3 separate regions of the Homo sapiens genome follow, and all the other regions are linked to region 3. Evidence: fine-mapped expression QTL. A gene starts in region 3. Each other region holds a variant in brackets. All regions are shown on one strand. Distances are between the middles of the regions. Region 1 overlaps SIK3 (SIK family kinase 3). Region 2 overlaps SIK3 (SIK family kinase 3). Region 3 holds the start of SIDT2 (SID1 transmembrane family member 2).

Region 1 (8,182 bases), 240 kb after region 3:
TCTTCTATTGTTCGGACTGTTCCTTCTTAGTATCTTTTGCTGGGCCTCCTTTCTCTGACTGCTAGAACATGTTGACATGTTGTAGCATATTCTCTGACTTTATATATATATATAATATATAAATAATAATTATATATAAAATATATAAATAATTATATATTGTATATAAATAATAATTTGTATATAATATATTATATATAAATAATAATTTATATATAATATATTATATATAAATAATAATTTATATATTATATATATATTTTTTTGAGACGAAGTCTCACTCTGTGGCCATGCTGGAGTGCAGTGGCGCAATCTCGGCTCACTGCAAGCTCCACGTCCCAGGTTCAGACCATTCTGCCTCAGTCTCCCAAGTAGCTGGGACTACAGGCACTCGCCACTATGCCCGGCTAATTTTTTGTATTTTTAGTAGAGATGGGTTTTCACCATGTTAGCCAGGATGGTCTTGATCTCCTGACCTTGTGATCTGCCCGCCTCAGCCTCCCAAAGTGCTGGGATTACAGGCGTGAGCCAACGCTCCTGGCCTGGCTAGGGAAATATTAATAAAATGGCAGAGGTGGAGACAGATGTTAAAGAAGTGGAGGCATTGGGTGCTATTTTGAGAAGCATTGCTCTGAAGGAAAGAAGGGAGAAGACAGTAGTTTGTACAGGAAGCAAGGTTGTTGGGAGAGAGTTCTCCACGGATATCTCACATTTCTTCATGTTTCATGAGTAAGGCACTGACTGCCTTTGTTCTAGACTGTTTTCTCAAGGATGTTTATATAGTGAGCACCCTTGAAAGACAGAGATAGTATCTCCCTCCACAGCTCAAAGATCTGTTTATTGCCCAGTGTGAAAGATTCCCTAAGCTCCAAGCTCAGGGTTCCTCTCCTATAATGGACCCGACTGTGTGTGTAGGCGTCATCTGGTCCCCTTTGCAGTGCCCTGTGAAAATTAGGGCTTGGGGAACTGAAGCAAATATGTTGATGTTCATGCTGCTTGCTGTGCCGTAAGTGACAAAGTCTTTTGTCTCTGACAGAGGGGTTTCCTATCTTCTGCCATCACCCATGTAATTGTGGCAGGTTGAGTTATTAGCTTGCAGAAATGGTGAGATCTCAGACCCTCTTGATACTTGACAGGAAATAAGGAGGGGTTTGTTTTATTTTGATTCGTTTAAATATGAGACTTGATTACAGGTTGAGGTTGAAGATGCAGTAGTGGGGAAGATGAGTTTGAAAATAATTGATATGGAAAACAATCTCTAAAGCAAGATCAATGAGGAACTGAGGGATGAGCATAATTGCAAGAAATTAGCCTTGCACATGAAGAAGGATAGAAGATAAAGGATGCATGTGGGTGTAGGCAATTTTTTAGGTAGAAGAATGTGAAAAAGATGTTTCATGCTTTTCATATAATTTTCTATTGAGAGTAGCAGATTATGTTATCAGATGAATTAAGGGTGAGAGGGTAGAGACCTGGATCAGCATGGAGAAAGTGAAATTAGCTGCAGGGAGGAATGAGAGAGAGGGCAATTAAGAATAGCTAAATAAGTTGATTAAAGGCCTTAGAGATAGGAAACAGTTAACTTGTTATTCCATTATACAGAATTGAGTGATTTTTTTCCCCTACCACCAATGCTCAATTACCTGTGTGTAAATTGAATAAGACAGACAATTGGACTGATCCTGTTTAGAGTTTACAGGACATGTGCAAATGAAGAGGCAACAGGTGACAAGGGTTTTGAGGCCACTAGCAATAATGTAATTAAAGTGTGGGCTTTTGGGCTTAGGCTGAAGTGGGTTGGGAAGGCAAGTGAGACCAGGATGACTGATCTTAAATAAGAATTTTTAAAGCTGGCTGGGCATGGTGGATCATACCTCTAATCCCAGCACTTTGGGAGGCCCAGGCAGGCAGATCACTGGAGCCCAGGAGTTTGAAACCAGCCTGGGCAACATGGAGAAATTCTCTGTTATTTAAAAAAAAAAAAAAAAAAAAAAAAGAATTCATGAAGCTACAGGTCTAGATGAAGTTGAAAAGCAAGTGTGTTAGTGTGTTGGGCATATGAAGGTTGGAGAGATGAAAGTCTAAAACTACACTGCCCAACACGACAGCCACTGTCCACATGTTGCTGTTGTGCTCACGCCTGTAATCCCAGCACTTTGGGAGGCTGAGGCGGGCGGATCACGAGGTCAGGAGATTGAGAACATCCTGGCTAACATGGTGAAACCCTGTCTCTACTAAAAATACAAAAAATGAGCCAGGTGTGGTGGCGGACGCCTGTAGTCCCAGCTACTCAGGAGGCTGAGGCAGGAGAATGTTGTGAACCCGGGAGGCGGAGCTTGCAGTGAGTCGAGATCCAGCCACTGCACTCCAGCCTACGGGACAGAGCGAGACTCCGTCTCAAAAAAAAAAAAGAAAAAAGAAATGTAGCTAGTGCCCCTGAGGAACTGAGTTTTGAATTTAATTTACATTTAAATTTAAAAACTGAGGTATTATGAAAAGTTTTAGGCCAGCTGTGAGAGTTAGCCAACTACAGACTAAGAGAGCATAGTCTCCAAGATCACCCCTCACTCTGCTGTCACCTACAAGTTCAGGAAATTCCCAAAACCGGTTCAGTTTGATAAATAGCTAGAAGGATTCACAAAATTCACTGAAAGCTAATATACTCCCGGTTTGGTTTAATACAGGTAAAGGATACAGATTAAAATCAGCCAGGGAAGGAAGTGCAGAGTCCAGGAGAAGTACGAAATGCAGAACTTTTGTTGTCCTTTCCATGTGGATACAAGATATGTTACACTCCTGGTATTGATGTGTTACATTGTGTACAGAGCAGTACCCATCAGGGAAGCTCAGCCCAGCCTCTGTGTTCAGTGTTTTTATTTTACATAAGCCTGATTGATTGATTGATTGATTGCTCACATGATTGATCTGTGTGTCTCGGTCAACTGATGCTCGTGACCCAAAGCCCACACGTCAAGTCACGCTGTTGTGCAGCCAACAATGTATATCCAGCCTCTACCCTGAGACTATATGGGTGTGGCGAATCCCAGCCTAAATCATGTTATTAGACTCTCTGGCATGACCCAAGGCTCCCAGACAGAGACACTCCGAGCAGACATAACATTCCAAGAACCCAGAGACTGCTTCCCAGAAGCCAAGGGAAGGCCAGGCCTTCTCTTTGGGTAAGGCCAAGTTCTTCACTCTGCAGAGTCTAAAATATTTTTCTATTAAACGCAACTCTTATTTTGATAAAACTACATTACACCTTGGCTATAGACAACTTAGTATTTTAGTTGTGATACGCTTATAAAGTATAAAATACACAGTGGATTTTGAAGACTTACTATGAAAAAAGAAGGTACCCTATCTCATTGCTATTATTTTTATTGATTACATTCTGAAATGATCTTTTGATGTATTTGGTTAAAGTAAGTTACTGATTTTCAAAATGAGTGCTTTTTTTTTTTACTTTTAAATGTGATTACAAGAAAATCTGAAATTATATAAATGGCACACATTGTATTTTATTTGATAGTGCTAATTTAGAAGGTTAAGATAAGAGAGGGGGAAGTTTAGAATTTCAGAGTTAAAATAATGTCAAGCAAAGACAAGTTCAAGATGTGGCCATAGGAATAGTTGCTATACATTGGTAGAGTTCTAGGTCACCGGAGAGAAAGAAGGCTAAAGGAACCATGAAGCAAACTGTCAAATAAGTTATCCTCATTGATGTTCACATTCCCTAGGTGATGGCAGAATTTGAGTGGAGGGCGCAATAGACTACAAACTAGGTTTCGGTGAGTGTCTTTGATGAATGTGAAGGCAAGAGAGGCAGAAAGGGAGTATACCAGCTGCCCAAACATATGGCGTAGTATTGTTAGTGGAGACCTTGAAGAGGTTACATTAATTCCTAATCCCTGGTGGAATATTGTCCCTTTTTACCTCAAGAGGCCTGTAAAGGAATTGCTAGTCTTAGAGGAGTTGGTTGGAAAAGTGATTATCAATGGGAGGTGTTGGCCCCGATGTAAAAGCCCTGCTGCCCTTCTTTGCCCTCTTTGTCCCTCCTTAACTTTTGTGACCCATCTCAAATGTTATTCCCCCTGTGAACTCTGCTCTGATTTTGCCAAATAGCTAATTACCTTTTTTTCTTCACTTTGA[A/G]CATACCTCTCCTATAGCACTTTTTGAAGTAATTTTTTTTTTCATTTCTAAGTTTGTCTTTTACTGGTAATTTAGACTCTGGTCCATTTCTTTTTCCTTTGACTATTTTCCAAGGGGCTTGATTGAATCCATGAATGTGGTGCCCACAGATAGAGAGGGAAGACTATATATGCTGAATTCAATCACTTATCACCACCTCCATAACTACCAATCTGGTCTAAGCCACCATCATGTCTTGCTAAGATCACTGCAGTAGCCTTTAAATAGTCTCTCTGAATCTGCCCTGACTTCCCCCCCGATTATAGCTAGAAGGATTCTTTTAAAATTCAAGTGGGACCTTACCACTGAGCTACTTCTGTTGGCTTTCCCATCTATTTGGAATAAATTTATAATTCCTACTATAGCCTATAAGATTATATAATTTGGTCTCCTGCTGTCTCTCACCACAGCTCCTAGCACTCTCCTCCTCACATCGGCATCTTTCTTTTTCATTAAACCCTTCGCTGTGCTCCCGCTTTAAGACCATATATTCCATTTCTTCTTCCTGAATTACTCTTTTCCTACATATCCACATGGCTGTCTCTCCTGTTTCTTGCCAGTCTCTTATCAAATGTTATCTCATTAGAGAGGTGTTTGCTCACCATGCTGTCTAAAATCTCATTCTTCCTACTGGCCCATTGCTCTGTAGTCTCTGTCTTGCTTTACTTTTCTTTTTGGTTTTTATCATGAACTGACATATATTTATTTGTTTTTTTACTGTCTTGAGTCAATAAAATTTACGTGCCATTAAAGACTTTGTCATTTTTGTTTCCTACCAAATCTTCAATACTCAAAATAGTGCCTACAGGGAATGCATGTTCCATAAATATTTATTGATAAGTTGAATAAAATACTAAGTGAATGAAAGAACATCACTGGATTGCTGATTATGGCGTTTAAGTTTTATTCATCTGTGTCTTCCTTGTTTAATGTAGTGTCTAACATATAGTAGGCACTCAGTAAATGTATTTCATTGTGTCATAATGAAATATAACTAAGTCAAGCATGGAATTTGCATGTTATTTAATAACATCTTAGTTAAATGAGTTTTTGACATGGGGAAAGCACCTTTTTTGGGTAACTGTATAGAGAAAGACATATTGAAGATTATGAATTCTAAGCAGTGTAATAAATAGACTTCAGTAATTGGTTATTTCATGAATATTTACTACTCATTCAATTGACTTATCCAGTTTATTTTTGCATACTATTCAGCCTTATATTATGAAGGAGCAGTGATGACAGTGTGGGTTTATTTAATGTTACAAACAGAATTGAGAAACTGGTTAGTTTTGTAAACCACTAAATTTATAATTTAAAACTTCCACACTCTGATATCTTTAGATATATATCCCCAAACTTCCTATTTGAGACCATGAAGTCATAAATCCAGCACTTTATCAAGCAAAATTTCCTGAATACCAGGCAGAACTCATGGGCATTTAAAACAAATTACTAATTTAAGAGGAGTCTGTTGAAATGTGTATGATTTATTATGAACATTCTCAGTGTCTTAAAAATAATATTTCTTAATGGTGCCAACATGTATGGAACCCTGAACTTCTCACAAAGCCATTCATTTATGCCATAGGTCACTCAAAAACTATTAGGACAGAGGATCAGAAAGACTAACTTGCATAACCATTGTGTACAAGATACTGTGTTAAGTGTTTCACATAGGTTATTTTATCTTGTGACTGCCTGGAAGTTCAAGAATACAACACATTTGTTTGAACACTACTATGTACTGGTTTGTTGTGGCTTTTTTTTTTTTTTTACATGTTTTTATTTAATCCGCAGCATCCTTTATGTCTTCACAACTAAACTACCATTTTCCCACTAGTTTATTTACTCCTTTGATTATTAAAAAAGGTATTTTCGGCCAGGCGCGGTGGCTCACGCCTGTAATCCCAGCACTTTGGGAGGCTGAGGCGGGCGGATCACGAGGTCAGGAGATTGAGACCATCCTGGCTAACATGGTGAAAGCCCGTCTCTACCGAAAATACAAAAAATTAGCCGAGCATGGTGGTGGGCACCTGTGGTCCCAACTACTTGGGAGGCTGAGGCAGGAAAATGGCCTGAACCCAGGAGGCGGAGCTTGCAGTGAGCCGAGATTGCGCCACTGCACTCCAGCCTGGGGGACAGAGCGAGGCTCCGTCTCAAAAAAATCAAAACAAAACAAACAAACAAACAAACAAAAACTTAGCTATTTTCTAAGGGTCTCCTAACAAGCAAGTAACCATGCTACTGAACTTTAGTCACTCTGAATCAAAATAATTGACTTGTATTTATTTCCCTAATTAATTTCCCATTTATTATTATTCATTTTTTGTTCTGTTTTCTTAATATCAGATATGACTAACATTTATTTTATTTATTTATCCTTTTTTTTTTTTAATGCCCCCACCAGGAGTGTGCAAGTGGAGAGATGCATGGATGAAGGAGGGGAGCTGGCGGGGGTGGGTCTGTGACCAGCATTTATATTGTAACTGGCCAAGATGTATGAGGAAGCCACCTGTGCTTTGACCTCACTTTACACTAAAACATTCATTTATAGTCTGATCATCCAGTCATTTCTACCATGACATAAAAATAAGAGCCCCAGAGAACAAATCAAATTATTTTTGCTGTATTGAGTATATATAAATCCCAAAGGGCCAGGCATGGTGGCTCACTTCTGTAATCCCAGCACTTTGGGAGGCTGAGATGGGCAGATCACTTGAGATCAGGAGTTCAAGACCAGCCTGGCCAACATGTTGAAACCCCGTCTTTACTAAAAAATACAAAAATTAGCTGGGCGTGGTGACACACGCCTATAGTCCCACCTACTCGGGAGGCTGAGGTACAAGAATCACTTGAATATGGGAGGCAGAGGTTGCAGTGAGCCAAGATCGCACCACTGCACTCCAGCCTGGGTGACAGAGTGAGACTCTGTCTCAAAAAAAAAAAAAAAACAAAAAAACCTTAAAGGAATATTTTTGCCTGGCTCCTACATTAACATTTACTTTCTCTGAAAATCATAACCCTGTGTTTGTTATTATCCAGTGTCTACAAACAGCCCAGCTTCTATAGTTAGGTAAAGTAAATTCAATATCAGTTGTTCTTTCATAATCAAAACAGAAGTCTACAATGCCATTCTTACATACAACAGCATTGACAGTAATTCCTTACTATCATGTAATAGCCAGGGCATGTTTAGCTTTCTGCAGATGTTTCAAAACATCTTCTTATAGTTTGTACAAATTACGATGCAAGAAATCCATACATCCATTGAGTTGAAAAATGTCTAAATTTTTTATAATCTAAATTTTTAAATAATCTGTGACAACCTCATCTCTTCCCTACAAACATTTACTTTTTTTCTATGCTATCTATTTATGTAAGAAACTGGATTGTCTTAAAAAATGTCCTACATTTGGAATTTGGCTGATCATATATTTATTGTGTCATTCAACATGTTCCTGTAGTTCAGTGTTTCTTGGAAAGTGGAAGTTATATTTAGGAATTTGCTTAGTTCAGTTTTTGGAGGGGAAGCAGGAGTGCTCCATAGTTTTTTATTGCATCACTTCAAGAGTTGTATAATATCTGATTTTCCCACTTTTAGTGATACTTAGAATAATCTTCAGGTATAGTTATTGTTCACCAAATTGATCCTTTATAAAGTTTCCCATCAGTCTTTTACGTAATGTTTTATCTACTCCTGTCATTTAGTTGCCTAGCTATTTCATTAGAAGTTGCAAGGCCGGGCTTGGTGGCTCACACCTGTAATCCCAGCACTTTGGGAGGCCGAGGCAGGTGGATCACGAGGTCAGGATTTTCAGACCAGCCTGACCAACATGGTGAAACCTTGTCTTTATTGAAAATACAAAAATTAACCAGCCATGGTGATGCACACCTGTAGTCCCAGCTACTTGGGAGGCTGAGGCAGGAGAATTGCTTGAACCCAGGAGGCGGAGGTTGCAGTGAGCTGAGTCCGCGCCATTGCACTACA
Region 2 (8,182 bases), 310 kb after region 3:
CAGATGGGAAAGTCACAGTGATACAAGCATTGTGGTGGTTCTCATTTCACTCACATGTTTTGGCGAGTAACAACTATTTTAAAGCAGTGAATTGATACTACACAATTGTATCTTATGTACCAAAATGTAATTTCAGTAATTCACTATGCTTTCCTGGAGTTAAGACATTTAAACTCCGGAAATCACATTAATATGAAACAACAGGTCAAGTCCTAGACATTTCAGGTAAACAATCTTCTACTGTATTTTCGGGTCCTCAAACACCTACAGGCCTTCTCTTTTCTTCTGCCTGGAAACCTGTAACTCCTGTCCCTCTTTGCCTGACCAGCTCCTGTGCATCCTTCAGGTTCCTGCTAGGTGCTACCTCCTCCAGGATGCCTTCCTTAATTCCCAAACACCCCCATTAGAAGACTTGATCATGCTATTTTGTAATTGTTTACTTGTCTCTATCCTCTACTAGACTGTAAAATGAGGGCAAGGTCTATGTCTGTAAATTCACATTTTATCCTGTAACAGTAAGCATTTGGCTATTTGTTAGATTAATAAATGAATGAATGAAGATAAATAAGAGGAAGAAATTCTAATTAGTATTACCTAAGCAAGGTAAAAATGGAAAAATAGGTATATGAAAATCCTGTATAACCCAGGAGTCTAGAAAAGTTCTGTAAATAAGAAAGTTAACAGAAAGTCCTGCCCCAAGCCCAGTTACTAGAGTAAGAGGCATGACAGAATAAGCTGCCACCTTGAGCTTTTCCTTCCTGTCTCTCTTCAGGCAGTGCCAGCAGTTACCCCTGTGGACGAGGAGAGCTCAGACGGGGAGCCAGACCAGGAAGCTGTGCAGAGGTAATGTGACATCTGGCAGTGCTTGCAGAAGCCCCTGGGCAGGCTCCCCTGCAACCAGCGAAAGGTCACCTCTGCCCAAGGAGGTGGTAGAGTGCAGCTTCAACATTTGTGTGGTCTCTTTGCTCAAGCCAGATGGCATGTTCCACCCCACATGGAAGTAACAGAAGACTACCCAGAAAATGTCATTTCTGTAAGCACCATTGGAAGTCCCCTAAGTGACAGCAATAACCATAAGAACTTTTTCTTTCCTCCCTCCTTCTTCCTTGTCCCCTGCCTTCATATTGCAACTCTGATAGTATTCACAAGGCACAAAGCCTGCTCGTACCTGCCAAGAACTGTTTACTGAAAAGGAATTGGAGATGTGGGATGACAGTGATCCTAGCTAGTCTGGCCATGGACCTCTGGCATGGACTTTTCCTTTCCAGGAGAATGAATACCTCTTGTACTGTTTGCTGTGTGCTTCTTCCACCCCCTTGTACCAACAAAGAGATATTGAAAAAGAGAATATGGGATTCGGGCCAGGGACAGATGCAAATATCCATTGTTTACAGAACCTTGTTGAGAGATGCCTAACTCACAGAGAACGGCAGTGACCATCAGGCATGCTGTACTGTTCATTTGGCCTCAGTTCCGTTAGCCCTGGTCCTTAGCTCCATGCATGCCCCCTTGTGGGAGTTGATTTTCTTATTATCCGGGGAGGGGGTTTCACCAGAATCCAGCATGTATTTTCCCAGAAATACAGGTGTTCTTCAAGATTATATGTTTTTTCCTTTGAGGGAAGTTGAAATAAAATGGTTTTCATGGGCTTTTGGGGAACTTTGGGTGTCTTTATCCAATGGTTATTAAAACATTAATGGCTTACTCTTTGGCAAGTTCACATAACACTGATTACTCTACAGTCTGTTAACTGATTTTAGCTGAAAGGGGCAAGATAGTTAAGAATGAAATGAGACCATTTTTTAAGAACCTGCCAGTTGCTGGCTAGGACTCTCATCCTATCCCCAGTAGCTCTGTGTGAGAGCTGCTATTCAGAAAGCAGCTGGTCCTATGTGGAAAGAAAACCATGGCAAACAGGGGTGTTGGCAGGTGGGCCAGCTCCTTCTACAGCTTGGCCAATAGAAGGAAAATTCTGGTAACTTTTTTTTTTCCTTGATGCTGTTGTTTCTATAGTTTGCTGATAAGAGGGTATATAAGGTTACAAATGGGCCCTACTGGGTCATGAAGAAATGAGAAATCAGGAAATTTACTGCCTTTCTACCTTAAAAGAGACAGCAATATTTTATCTTCTTTGTCTTAGACTTTCCTTCCTCCAGGTCTACCTTCTTTCTTCTTTAGACCAACATTTCAAGGGTATAATGCCCATCAGTTTTGATGTAATAAAAAAGGTGTAGTGCCTCTTTTATTCATGCCTCCAGAAGAGCAGCAGCGGTGGAGGAAGTCATCCACCAGACAAAGAGGGACAATATCTTATTGATGGTATTAACTAAGTGCTGGGTCTGAAAGATCTTCCGAATAAAAGCCATCAGTTTGGGAACTCTTCGTCTTGTGAGACTCTTCTGTTTTTATTTTTTGCCTTGCTTTTTCCCTCCCTAACTAAACATTTCATGTGGTTTTATTTCTTCATCCTCCACAGAATGTTGGTTCCCCAAGGACAACATCAGTTTTTCTTCTCTGATGATTGAGTTATAGTCACCAAGCGAGAGGGAAAGGGTGGTTTTGGAATTCATTTATCCTCAAATGGAAGGATCAGTTTTCTGTGACCTGTAGTGAAGAAAGTCTCAAACCTGGGGCCTGTGAGATCGAGAGACATGCACAGAGTCCTTCTGAATATCTCCCCAGGTTCATCTCTAGGAATAGTCCTTAGGGCTCATTTCCTCTGACTTGTATTTTGGAAATTTGGAGGGAAAAGATGAATAAATTAACATGGAGAAAATAAATTCTTCTACCGAGTAGAATGAAGCAAGGAAAAGTGATCTCATCTTTGTGAGCTAGATCTACTTTCTCTCTTCTCTTCAATGGCTATTCTTAGGTTCAAAATTCAGCCACTTCATTGTCAAGCCAACTTCTGTTGGCCAGTTAGACGTGTCTCACTTCCATCCAGGCAGGGATCTGTTTGCCATCAAGCCTTCGTGAGCTCTGGCACTATTTCATTGAGTGCTTTGGATTAACTTCTAATGCTTCTTGTGGAGGAATATTCCTGTCTGTCTTTTTTACTATGAAATGTGCTCCTGCTTGTTGCAGGTACTTGGCAAATAGGTCCAAAAGACATACACTGGCCATGACCAACCCTACAGCTGAGATCCCACCGGACCTACAACGGCAGCTAGGACAGCAGCCTTTCCGTTCCCGGGTCTGGCCTCCTCACCTGGTACCTGATCAGCATCGGTGAGTAGCCAC[A/G]TGAGCTGTGCGAGCTCCTTGAGGCTCATCGGACAGGCACCCTTCTGATTAGTCTCACAGCGACGGTGACTAGCATCGTGGCTTTAAATAGAAGCCAGCTGTCATCCTGAACTCACATCTTCTCAGCTCCTTGCAGTAAGCAATGCACAGGGCAAAGGTTTTTTACTGCGCCCTGGAGCAATGCGAGATTCCTCTCTCCCATTACCTTGCAGACCTGTTTATTGTCTGCATTTGATTCCCATGATTCTAGATGTTGATTCATAGATAAAATTGAACTTGAGACCTGCAAGAAAGTGAAACTCTCAGAAGGCCACCTGGAAACAGGAAGATTTTTAGCCATATCGATAGACTTGACCTTTAATAATCCATCACCTTCAAAAGAATGAGCATTTCATATCGTGTTACCATTGAACCGCCAGCCTGGAAATGAAGACAAAGCCCCTTCTGAATAGTAGAGCAGAGATCCTCTTGAGCGATGTATTTAAGAGGTCATTCTTTCAATATTCTGATGGCAAAAATCTTTTGCTAGGTTCGGTTATGGTTATAATCCATTCTCTTGAAGAAATAAAAGCAAGTTTAACCTTCCTGACCAAGAAAACTTCATTGACTCCAAGTAAGCCTGGAAGCAGCTGCGGAATGACACTTTGCTAGTTGAAGAAGATGATTATCTTCTGTGACTATCTTGATGACTAAAAATCTCAGTCTTGGCCACTCCGAAGCTATCCCCAAGCTCATGGCCCACACGTTCAAAGCCACCACCAGTTACTAGAGCGTATTTTATTTCTGTCTTTTGGGGAGGACACTGAAAAGCAGCCTTGGGAAGGTTGAAAAGCAATCAGATTCCAAGGAAACTAGGTTTATATATGTGGTGTTATGAAATCTTGCAGCCAGCTTGCACTGGCAAGCTTGACACATTTTTTTTACTGAGGCTGGTTACCCATTTGGCATCAACATAATCAGCAGAGGCAAGTGAACTCTGAGCAGAGTGGGACATAATTAGTGCCACGTTGGAACCCTAAAAGAAGGAAGATAAGCTTTCATAAATGACTATGAGTAACTTGGTAAAAATGGTCTGTCAGGAGTAGCAAGAATGACAATTCTCAAATAAAACTCTGATGGCACAGAAAGACAGGCTTTTTCTAATGAAAGTCTCTCAGGACTTACAGTGTTCGTACACACTAAAGAGCACTTTGAGGCCAGGCACGGTGGTTCACGCCTGCAATCCCAGCACTTTGGGAGGCCGAGGCGGGTGGATCACAAGGTCAGGAGTTCGAGACCAGCCTGGCCAATATGGTGAAACCCCATCTCTACTAAAAATACAAAAATTAGCCGGGTGTGGCGGTGGGCGTCTGTAGTCCCAGCTACTCGGGAAGCTAAGGCAGGAGAATTGCTTGAACCCGGGAGGCAGACGTTGCAGTGAGCCGAGATCATGCCACTGCACTCCAGCCTGGGCAACAGAGTGAGACTCCGTCTCAATAAATAAATAAATAAAGAGCACTTTGAGTGATTACTGGAGACCTGCCTTCTCCTCCCCTATACGTTTCCTGTGATTTCTCATAACTTCAAGCTCTACACTGGTATCTAATACACCCTTTATTCCTTCTTTTCTCCTTGTCTCCTTCTTCCCTTCCTCCACAGCCTGACACTTAATGTTTCAGCCCTTGTCTGAGTCTGTTGTTTAGCTGAAGTCCTTTAGGTATCCTTGTTGAATGCTAGGTGTTCCTCAGGAGGTCTTCTTATGAGGGGAACATGAAGATCGTCACATTTCCAGAGTCAGGCTTTATCACAGACCCTATATTCTGTTGACATTTGTTACTCAAGGAGGTCCACACTGGACCACAGCTCTGTCTGTGTGATATCCACCCTGCCTAGAGTCATTGTCAAGGCCTTGCCTGCTGGAAATCTATCTGCTGTCTGTTTTCATGTGAACCTTTTTGGTGTTTTGAGGGTTGCCTGTGGCCAAGCCTATTTGAATTGGAAGAAAATGATGTTTTATGAGTGGCAAATTGCATAAGATGGGGCATTTGTGCAAACCCAGCATGTCTTGATGGGATCACTATACAAATATGCAGCAAAAGAGATTAAAGCCAGTCTTCAGGGGAAATGAGAAACTTTCCAAGGCTATAAAACATGGAATACGGGTGGCCTGCATGGGTTCTTGAATTCCTTTCATTTTCTGGAGGAAATGATTAAAGAACAGTATATATAGCTATCCTTCTGGGGTAGAAGAGATGAAGTTCAACATGGAAACAGAAGAGTGGTCTAATCAACCTTTTCATTTCTGGAAATGTGTAATTTAAGGTTAAAAATGTTTTAAAAAGTGTAACTAAAAAATTTTTTTAAACTAACACAAGATAGATTTTATCCAGGTGGGAAACCAAGTCCCTCCTTGAAGAGTATAGTGTGGGAGTATCAGCCTAATGCGAGGCCATCCTGAATTTGAGTGTGATTGCAAATAAAAATAAAATCAAGCACAATTGATACTTATCAGTGCTTCTCAAATGAGCAACTGCATCAGAACCGTTCCTCTGAGGTTACTGTGCTGGACTGACCTGGGTATCAGTCTCTTCACAACCTGAGCTTCTGAAAAAGTCATGAAATACCTGGACCTGGGATTTTCTGTGATGGGAGAGAATTATTTTTGTGCAGAAAGACTGTATTGCTACTTGAAGAACATGGCTTTCTGAGGGGATCAGAAACATGTCCATTTCAGAAAACATTGAAAGCATAGGAATCAAATTTTAGGAGAAAATAGTACTTACTTGCTTCTACTTCAACCTGAAGTAGAAACAGAAATGACAAGTTATAAGGAAATGCTTCTCAACACAGCCTTCATGATCCCTGTTCCTGGATTGTGGCCCGCCAAATTCATTTGTTTTTTGTGTTGCTGAACCAAATACATGTTCGTGCTCATTTCATTAGCTCACTGCTGGGTCAAGCCTCAGGTAGAGTCTGAAACAAAAGCCATCATTAGCAAAGACAGGGTAAAAGGCTTTCACCTGCTGCCAGAACTCTCTGGATACCTCTGCACGGTCATTAGATTCCTCCTGGTCCCGCGCTGTCTGCATTGTATTTGAACTCGCTTGTTAACCTGCTTCCTGAGCTGTGGTTCTGCTTCAGTCCCAAATGAATCACTGGCAAGGTAGCACATCATTTCATCCAAAGTTCAGTGTAATGGCATCTCTGCCCTGGACATGAAACCCTGATCCTTTCCATCTGCTACTGGAATGCTGCTGCCTTGGCAGTCTTTTATCTGCTTACCTCAGCCCATAAACATCTCTTTCTGATCATCAGGTCACAAGAGTAGGTGTTAGCTTCTAACCCCGATGCTGTCTTAGGCATTCCTTATCAATAGCTTGTTCTTTCTTTCTGTAAGATTCTGGCTGTGTTCCAGTTGAGCAGTGGGGTCTTTGAAGGTAATCCATATGATTCCTCTTTCATTAGGAGGTTGGGTGAGTGCTGCTGCTCTGAGAAGTTGATTTTCACAGTAGGTGACCTTATTTGTTGACCAGGTACGTGCAGGATCTCAAGGCCCACATTCCTTAAGAATTTGTTGTCTCCATCCCAGGATCAGAAGTCTTCATTTTCCCCCACCCCAATCGCCACCTTCTATTTTCTGTCACAGAACCTATGAGTTCTAGGCCAGACCTTTGACCACAAAACTGACTGTTGTTTCCCTCTGGCCATACGGAGATCATTGCTCAGGGAAAACTTTGGCTCAAATGGTGAATTTAAGGTTTCTAAAGGCACTAGATAGACATATGATTATAAAAGCAAGAGCTTCTGTACAGTCTGGCCTGGAGGATATTGAGAAGCTTTTCTCTCTGGCCTAGTGTATTTATAAGAACTGGATGTACTTGATCTCGGGACCTCACCAGGCTTGGAAAGTAAGCCAACCGAAGGTAAGTAGAAATGGAAGATGTACACCTGGAGCCCTCTAAAGGGAAGCAGGCTAGGGAAACGACTGATGTCTGGAAATGGCATGAAAGTGGCATAATATGCAGGGCTACCTGGGCAGCCAGCCGTCTTTATGTTCATCTGGAACAGCAGTCCCTGTGTGATTTGGTCAAAGCCCCTGAGTCCTAGCCTCTAACCTTCTCTTCCCATATATTCAGCTCTACCTACAAGGACTCCAACACTCTGCACCTCCCTACGGAGCGTTTCTCCCCTGTGCGCCGGTTCTCAGATGGGGCTGCGAGCATCCAGGCCTTCAAAGCTCACCTGGAAAAAATGGGCAACAACAGCAGCATCAAACAGCTGCAGCAGGTAATGGAAGAGGTGGCAGGCATCCCTGGAGGAGCATGGGTGACAGAGGCCAGGATTGCAGGAGGACTGGGGTGGTAAACGTACCCCTTTTATGTCAGCAACATTGCAGTTTTATAGGTTAAAAAAGTATAGCTTTCTGGGCCGGGCGCAGTGGATCCCGCCTATAATCCCAGCACTTTGGGAGGCCAACGTGGGAGGATTGCTTGAGCCCTGAAGTTCTAGACCAGCCTAGGCAACGTGGCAAACCCTTTCTCCCCCAAAAGATTAAAAATTAGCATAGTCCCAGCTACTCCTGAGGCTGAGATGGGAGGATCACTTGAACCTGGGAGGTAGAGGTTGTAGTAAGCTAAGATCACACCCCTGCACTCCATCCTGGCAACAGAACGAGACTCTGTCTTAAAAGAAAAAGAAAGTATAGCTTTCTAATGCACTTTCTTTACTTTGTGTTATGTACAGCCCTCCCCAGGATCAAACTTCCTTCCCCTGTGAAGGGACTAAATTTTTCTCCTGTCTCTAGTTCATTGGAAAGGAATTTCTGGGCTTGGGTTTCTGTGGGAACCACCAGAGAAGGTGCTACTTTTTTTTTTTTTTTTTGAGACCAAGTCTTGCTCTGTCACCCAGGCTGGAGTGCAGTGGCACAATCTCAGCTCACTGCATCGTCCGCCTCCTGGGTTCT
Region 3 (8,174 bases):
AAGGGAATAGTCCCCTATAAGCGAGGACCCAGAATCCTCTGAGGGGTGGGCAGTGGAGGCTCTCCGAGGAGACAGGCCTTGATCACAGCAGCCCCTTTCTCTGTATACCATTCCCTTCAACCTCAGCAGGGCACTCAGCAGAATGCCAGAGAGGCAACCAGACTCCATGTCTCTGTACAGTCCCATGCTGTCTGTCCCTCACCATGTCAGGGCCAGAGCTCCTGTTTCCAGAGAGCCCTCCATGGAGAAAACAGCCAATTCAAAAGGCCAAGCAAAGACCGCTGGCCACTCCCATTCTCATATTCAAGCTCCCCCATTTCTCCTCTCGAGCAATCAACAGGGAGATGTTACCTGGGGCTGTGCTGCTGTGGTATTGAAGCTGAACTGCTCCCCAGTCCTGCAGGGCAGAGAAGAGCCCCCACCAGTCACCCCCGGAGCCTGGGGAAGAACCAGCCCCCGTGGTCCCCTCACTCTACCCTGCAGACCTGAGCACAAAATCGTCCATGCGGCTGACCCGGAGCTGGTATGTGGTGTTGACTGGTGACAGGGTGGACACATCCACGTAGAAGAACTGAATCTCCGACTCATTCTTGGTGGGGGGCTGACACAGGGTTCGTTCCACTTTTTGGTAGAGGTACTTGCGCTGAAACCTATGGCCCGAAGCAGGGAGATAGGATGTGAGCACTGTCCCAGCCGGCCTGCCCCTCCAGAGGAGCGAGGCCCCACCTCGCCCCGTCTGGTCTCCACCACCTCCCTGCGAGGTGCACAAGCTCCCGGCTGGTGGGACTCGGCCCTTGTGCTGTTGACCAGCCTCCCAGCCCAGGGAAAGGGGAGGAGAAATGGGGGGGCTCCTGGTTGAGGCTCCAGCCAAGGACTGGCCTAGGCTGCCCCGCTTCCCTGATGCCCAGATCCTACTCACATCCCTCGCAGGATTAGGGGCACCTGGAAGGACACCACAGCCTCCTTCTGGCGGACCACAAACAGCAACGGCGCCCCCTTCTGCTTGTTCAGGACGTTCACAGACACACGCACGCCCTCTGTCTGCAGAACGACATGGAAATGCCTCTCAAGCCTCTGCCACCAGGGACACGTGGCTCCAGAGACTATGAGCCCTGCCCTCCTTCATGCCAGCTACTTTGGTCTTTCTCCATCTTGGTCGGGCCAGGGAGTCATCTCTGCCTCTTCTTCTGCCAGAACAACCCCCAGACTCCAGGAAAGACCTGTGCTGAGTGCAGCTCCTGGCCGGCAGACATGTGCAGGGCAGCAGGACCCAAGCAACCGCAGGGTCTCACCCTCTGCCAGGAAACACGGTGGAGGCCTTGCGAGTCTCCAGGATACCCCATTCCTATCCATGTGCACAGGATGCACAGGCCTGCACACACAAACGTGTACACACGCCCCCACACACGAAGACACAGGAGAACAAGAAGTGCTCCTCAACCTTCCTGTGAGCCAGGAAGCCAGCAGGAAGCTCTAGTTAACAGCTAACCTGGGGCCAGAGCCCAGAGGAGTTGAGGAGGGGTAGGTATTGAAGGCCATGTTGTATCCTTAGCTCCCACCAAGGGACAGGGCTGTGGAGAAGTCACTTTACTTCTCTAAGCCTCAACTTCTCCCTCTATAAAATGACAGCCGGGTGCGGTGACTCACGCTTGTAGCACTTTGGGAGGCCAAGGCAGGAGGATCATCTGAGGTCAGGAGTTTGAGACCAGCCTGGCCAACATGGTGAAGCCCCATCTCTACTAAAAATACAAAAATTAGCTGGGTATGGTGGCAGGCGCCTGTAATCTCAACTACTTGGGAGGCTGAGGCAGGAGAATCGCTTGAACCGGGAAGGCGGAGGTTGCAGTGAGCTGAGATCACAAAACTGCACTTCAGCCTGGGCAACAGAGTGAGACTGGTCTCAAAAAAAAAAAAAAAAAAAAAAAGATAAAGTGATCTTCACCCTTGGAGCTATGAAGGAACATATATAAACAATGGGAGCTTAAAGGAAAAATAAAACCAAATCGATCTTGGAATGCTTGTTATTGGGCTGCTGAAACCCAAGCCCTAGGGCAGCATTTCCCAAAAGAGTAAAAACCACAGCTCTCCAGTGCCTTTAGATATGGGAAAAAAGGAAGAAAGGACTCTAAGCAGAAAGAGATCAAACTTCAGAGAACCAGGCACTGGGGGCAGATCCTGGCCTGCCACAGAAACCAAACCACTCCCCGTTCTGAAAAAAAATCAGATTCCCCATTCTCAACTCCATTGCTTCTCAGTAAACGGCAGTCATGGAGAGAGAGCAAGAGACCCGGGCACGAGACCACACAGCCAGGTTGCAAGAATTCTCCCAATCTCAGCTCTGCCTGGGGTCTAGACTTCCCACACTAGCTGTGTCTATTTCAACTCAGGGACTCACAGCTGGTGAAGAAACCAAAGAGAAGTCAGGGTGAAGTGGATTTTTCACAGTGGACAAATTCCCCTTCTCTTCCCACCCAACTTGCAGTTGGCCTTATAAAACCTCTGTCACCCTCAATTTACAAGGCCAGCTGGCTCTCCCAGGCAGGAAGAGGGCTGGGAAGCCCTGCATTCATCTCCCTGGGGAGTCTGAGATGTAACTTGCCTGCACAGAGCTTTTCAGTTCTGGGCCAGTCTCATTCCCCTGAGGTTTTCTGGGCAAGCCCAGTAATAAGCCTGTTTCCTCTCCCACCGAGACCCCACAGAGCTGTCAGATTCTGGGGTTTAGGGTAGAGAGCAAGCCATGTGTGCTCAGACCACAACTGATGGAAGAATGGGGGCGGAAGAGAAGATGGGAATGAGCCAACTTCAAAAACTGCCCAGCTGGAGCTTCAGAGAAACATTGGTGGCAAAGGAAGGAGGACTGGTCAAGAGGCTCCAGTGTGGTTCTGGGAACTGGGAACCTAGCAGGACAGCTCGTTCCTGGGGCCTCCCAAAAGGGTAGCGGGGCGGCAGAATCGCCTAGCCCTCGTCGGCTTCCCCACTCGCCTCTGGCCCCTAAGCCCCCAGCCCTCACCCTGTTGCGGGTCACAGTATGGTTGAAGGTGTAGATGTTGACCAGCTCGCTGTTGACCTCGTCCACGTAGGTGCGCTCAAACTCGGCGTCTTTCTGCGAGACGTTCTTGGGCCCCAGAACCCCCAGATGGCTCTCGACCGAGGCCACCAAGAGCACCAAGAAGGGCAAGCCCAGAGCGAACATGGCCCCGGCAGGGCGGCAGTGGCAGCGGTGGTGGCGGCGGCGGCGGCGACAGGAGACAGGACACCTCCGGGACGGGTTGCGGCTGCGGCCGCAGCTTCCAGCATCTCACCAGGACCAGAACTTTAACCCCGGCCTGAGATTAGGAAATGTCCCCTCCCAAGAGCCCCGAAGAGGCTCCCAGGGTCCCCGCAGGGGAGGGGGCGGCCGGGAGGGGGCGGGGAGGGAGGGGATGCTGGCTACGGGAAGGGGTCCCAGCTCGCGAGGGGCTGAGTACGACCTGAGACCCTGGAGCCCCGGGCCAGGGCCGTGAGAAGGAGGGCGGCTGGTTGCCGGGAGCCTGGAGACGCCGGGAAAGGGGAGGGAGGAAGAGCCGGCGGCGGGGGCTGGCCGCGGAGGAAGGCGAGTCGCAGAGTGAGGGGCGTGATAGGTGGTAGCTACCCGACGCCGTGCTGGGCTGCGAGTTTTCCGAGGTGCGGGCCCTTTAAGGGCGGGCGGACGCGCCGTCCCGACGCACGAACACTGAAAAGTGAGCTGCGCCGCTGGGCGATAAACAGCAGGGCTGCTGGCCCGCCCGCTGACGTCAGGGGAAACTGACACAGATTTAAAGGACCAGGTCCCGCATTTGCCCTTAAAGGGGCTGCAGCTGTCTAGCTGAAGGGGAAAGCTTGCAATGCCTTCTCCAACTCCTACCCAACTCTCTCCCGTGATTTTCACCATCTCTGAAACTCACGTTGGAATAGGCAGATGTTTCTGTTAACAATCTCCAAGTGTTGGGTTCTTGCTGAACAACTCTTACATTTGCTCAAACATAAGGATTCCCCCACCCCCACCACCACCTTTACAACTAACATCGTCCAACCCTGGGCCACTTTTTCTCCGGGGATCTTAAAAAATGAAAAACTCGAAGGATTAGGAAACAGGACGGTGGCCCTACCGGCGGAGGGGAAACGGAGGCAGCACTGCAGGAGGAATCCCCATGCCTTTCCCACCTCCCTCTAGAGGGGCCACACAACTGCAGGGACGGCCTTCCGAGCTTTCCAAGCTTGCCGGGCTGTTTCCCCTCTTCTCTCAGAGACAGTTACAAAACTCATTGAAAGATACTGACCTTCAGTGTAAATTGGTGAAAACTTTTCTACAAAATATTTTGGCACTGTTTCAAGAAACTTAGAGAGCTTTATACCCTTTGATCCAGTAATTCCACTTCTGGACTCTATCCTAAGGAAATAGGAAGCACAGATAAAAATACCTGGGCAGCTACGCTTATCACTGTGATATTTATAATATAAAGCAAAAAGGAAATGACTTGGATATCCATAATGAGGGATTGGTTAAATGCACTATCATGAAGGCATCAAAAATGATGCTTAAGACTTCACAGGACACGTAAGCAGAGAATTCAGGATATGACACTAAATAAACAGTATATAGAGCCAGGTGCCGTGGCTCACACGTGTAATCCCAACACTTTGGGAGGCCAAGACAGGTAGATCACTTGAGGTCAGGAGTTCGAGACCAGCCATGGCCAACATGGTGAACCCCATCTCTACTATAAAAATACAAAATTAGTGGGGCGTGGTGACGCGTGCCTGTAATCCCAGCTACTGGGGAGGCTGAAGCAGGAGAATCGCTTAACTCTACCAGGCGGAGGTTGCAGTGAGCTGAGATCATGCTCCTGCACTCCAGCCTGGGCTGCAACAGAGCAAGACTCTGTCTCAAAAATAAATAAGTAAATAAAACCGTATATATTCCAAATGCATATAGACATGCATAGAAAAATAGAAAAAAATTGTACTAAACATTTAGCAATGTCTCCAGAAAGCAGGGCAAATTTTAAAAATAAAATTTAGCAGTAGTTATCTTTGAATTACAATTTTAAAAATAACACATATTGTATATCATTTTCCTTTAATTCTAAAAATATAGAGTAGTACCAAAAAATAAAAAATAATGGATTGTGAGTGGTTCTTAAATTTTATTTTTTATATTTAAAAAGATTTACAAATGTTCTACAATGTATATATATTTATATATTGCTTTTTTATCTGCCGGGGGGTGGAGACAGGGTCTCGCTCTGTTGCCCAGGTTGGAGTGCAGTGGCACAATCTCAGCTCATTGCAACCTCTGCCTCCTGGGTTCAAGCAATTCTCCTGCCTCAGTCTCCCGAGTAGCTGGGATTACAGGCCATGTGCCACCACGCCCAGCTAATTTTTGTATTTTTGGTAGAGACGGGGTTTCACCATATTGGTCAGGCTGGTCTCGAACTCCTGACCTCAGGTGATCCACCCACCTCAGTCTCCCAAAGTGCTGGGATTATAGGCATGAGCCACCATGCCTGGCCACATATATTGCATTTATAAGACAAATTAGACTTTTTTTTTTTTTTTTTTTTGAGATGGAGTCTCACTGTCACCCATGCTGGAGTACAGTGGTGTGATCTCAGCTCACTGCAATCTCCGCCTCCTGAGTTCAGGCGATGCTCCTGCCTCAGCCTCCCAAGTAGCTGGGACTACAGGCACCCGCCACCACACCCTGCTAATTTCTTGTATTTTTAGTAAAGCGGGGTTTCACCATATTGGTCAGGCTGATCTCGAACTCCTGACCTCGAGTGATCCACCCACCTAGGCTTCCCAAAGTGTTGGGATTACAGGCGTGAGCCACTGCGCCCGGCCAAATTAGACATGTTTAAAGGAAAAGAAATGTGGCCACCTCTGAAGCTGTCAGACATCCTAATAAAGCCACCCAGATCAGTGCCTTGTCAGAGTTCTCTCAGCTGGCAGGATTGCAGCAGTCTCAGCTCCCAGCCCTGCCCAACTATCTGGAGCCTTGTTCCAATGAAGACTATTTTACCTTATGATCAGTTAGTTATATTTACTCATTCCTGCAATAAATATTTAATAAGCATCCACGATGTGCCAGGTACTGTTGTAGTTATGCTGGGCAAATGGTGAGTGGAGGAATTAGTTTTGGCCCCTGTCCAAGCACAGCATACTTGAGGATGAAGACCAGAAGCAAGCTGCACCCCTTTTCCAAAGGGTTCACCAATTAGAAAGTCAGCTGGAAGATAACCTTATGGGTTTCCTTGGCCAACCCCTCATTATACAGATGAGGAAAGTGACGCTCAGAAAAACTTCAGCCCATTAGTACCTCACTAGACTCAAGTTTGCACCTTGGTCCAGTACTGTTTCCAGCACATCTAGGCGAATATGAATCAGAGAATCCTCAGGATGGCAAAAGAGGTTTCTTCATCATGAGCCCTCCATGCAGTCAGCTGCCAAGTTTGGAGAATCAGTGTAGGATTTCCTCAGTCCATCTGGACTTTTCTTTCATGGTAATCCTGCTCATCTTGCCAGTAAATAATCTGAAACATTAAGAAACACTCGTGATACATTGCCCAGGCTGGTCTTGAACTCCTGGCTTCAAGCGATCTGCCACAGCCTCTCGAGTAGCTGGATTACAGGCAAGCACCACTACTCTAAGTTGGCCTCATAACTTTGGGGCAAGATGTGACCCTACGCCTGTTTTAAACGCACATCCAGAGTCCTACTTCACACTTAATTCATCTTGGGAGGTGGAGCCCAGAAAACTGCAATTTAACGGGGCACTCCAGAAGCTTGCTATGCACAATGAAGTTTGAGAACCACTGCTCTGGAACCAAACAACTGTGGACTATCACTATTTCTGTTTGCTCCCTTTCCGCTGGCAATATCTGGAGAGAAATCCATCCAAGCAAACTCTGAAGGGATCCTTCCCTTTTGCAAGGTCTCAAGACTTAACTTTTGAATCGTCAGGACCCTGCGTCTACAGAGTGGGAGGGCAGCAACTGCACATTTTCTTGCTGTTCCCAGGTCTGCAGAACTTTCCTCAGTCCCTCTGCCCTACCCCGCACTTATGAATAGGTCCTTTCTGAGGTCTGTCCACTGGGAGAGAATGCCTTTTTGTTGGCTGCAGCAGTCAGCAAAAAAAGGCAGTGGTGTGTCTCAAAGCCAGACTTGTGAGCACACAGGGGAGATGTCGGGGCCTCAGGGATGTGATCCTGGCCTTGTGCACAGGTCCAGCTACCGCATTCCCTGGCATAATATACAAAGAGCTCAACCCTAACCGTGGCCCTCAAGCGGTCAGGGTGGGGCCATAAGGCTTATTTGACTTATATTTCCCTGTGGACCACCCTTCCTGAGCCTGAGTGTTGAATGGACCAAAGAAATGGGACCATTCAACACACAGCTGAGGAGCTTGCTGGACCCATGAGTCCAGCTCCATTTTAAGTCACAGGGGATTTATGAAGTTTGGGGTGAGAGGACAGGGAGGAAGCTTCAGGTGGCTCAGGGGTATTGTTAAAATGACCTGAAGATGGCCTGGTGCGGTGACTCACGCCTGTAATCCCAGCACTTTGGGAGGCCAAGGCGGTTGGATCATCTGAAGTCAGGAGTTTGAGACCAGCCTGGCCAACATGGTAAAAGCCCGTCTCTACTAAAAATACAGAAAATTAGGTCAGGTGCAGTGGCTCACGCCTGTAATCCCAGCACTTTGGGAGGCCAAGGTGGACGGATCACCTGAGATCAGGAATTCGAGCCCAGCCTGACAGACATGGAGAAACCCTGTCTCTACTAAAAATACAAAATTAGCCGGGCGTGGTGGCACATGCTTATGATCCCGGCTACTTCGGAGGCTGAGGCAGGAGAATCGCTTGAACCTGGGAGGCAGAGGTTGCGGTGAGCTGAGATCACGCCATTGCATGCCTGGGCAACGAGTGAAACACCACTAAAAAAAAAGAAAAAAAAATGGCCAGGGGCGGTGACTCACGCCTGTAATTCCAGTACTTTGGGAGGCTGAGGTGGGTGGATCACCTGAGGTCAGGAGTTTGAGACCAGCCTGGCCAACATGGTGAAACCCCGTCTCTGATAAAAACACAAAAATTAGCTGGGTGTGGTGGCAGGCGCCTGTAATCCCAGCTACTCGGGAGGCTGAGGCAGGAGAATCACTT

The links. PIP is the estimated chance that this variant, and not a neighbour inherited with it, causes the effect.
Region 1: its variant is fine-mapped to the expression of SIDT2 in whole blood (INTERVAL, PIP above 0.99).
Region 2: its variant is fine-mapped to the expression of SIDT2 in whole blood (INTERVAL, PIP above 0.99).

What each region holds. Positions count from the first base shown.
Region 1 is chr11:116,939,195-116,947,376 of GRCh38, reverse strand. All of the region lies in intron 3 of SIK3 (SIK family kinase 3), which reads left to right. Among named protein-coding and RNA genes, the nearest start is that of APOA1, 110 kb to the right of the region's middle. The variant A/G (reference allele first, on the strand shown) is at 4,153.
Region 2 is chr11:116,862,992-116,871,173 of GRCh38, reverse strand. SIK3 (SIK family kinase 3) reads left to right here. Exons shown (of 25, transcript NM_001366686.3): 14 at 773-843; 15 at 3,085-3,228; 16 at 7,356-7,506. Among named protein-coding and RNA genes, the nearest start is that of APOA1, 29 kb to the right of the region's middle. The variant A/G (reference allele first, on the strand shown) is at 3,241.
Region 3 is chr11:117,174,283-117,182,456 of GRCh38, reverse strand. SIDT2 (SID1 transmembrane family member 2) reads right to left here and starts at 3,714. Exons shown (of 26, transcript NM_001040455.2): 1 at 3,011-3,714; 2 at 920-1,041; 3 at 486-650; 4 at 352-397. The coding sequence starts at 3,193. It also overlaps a transcript of PAFAH1B2 not described here. RefSeq lists silencers at 739-798, 3,406-3,615 and enhancers at 237-1,032, 1,269-1,328, 2,356-2,425.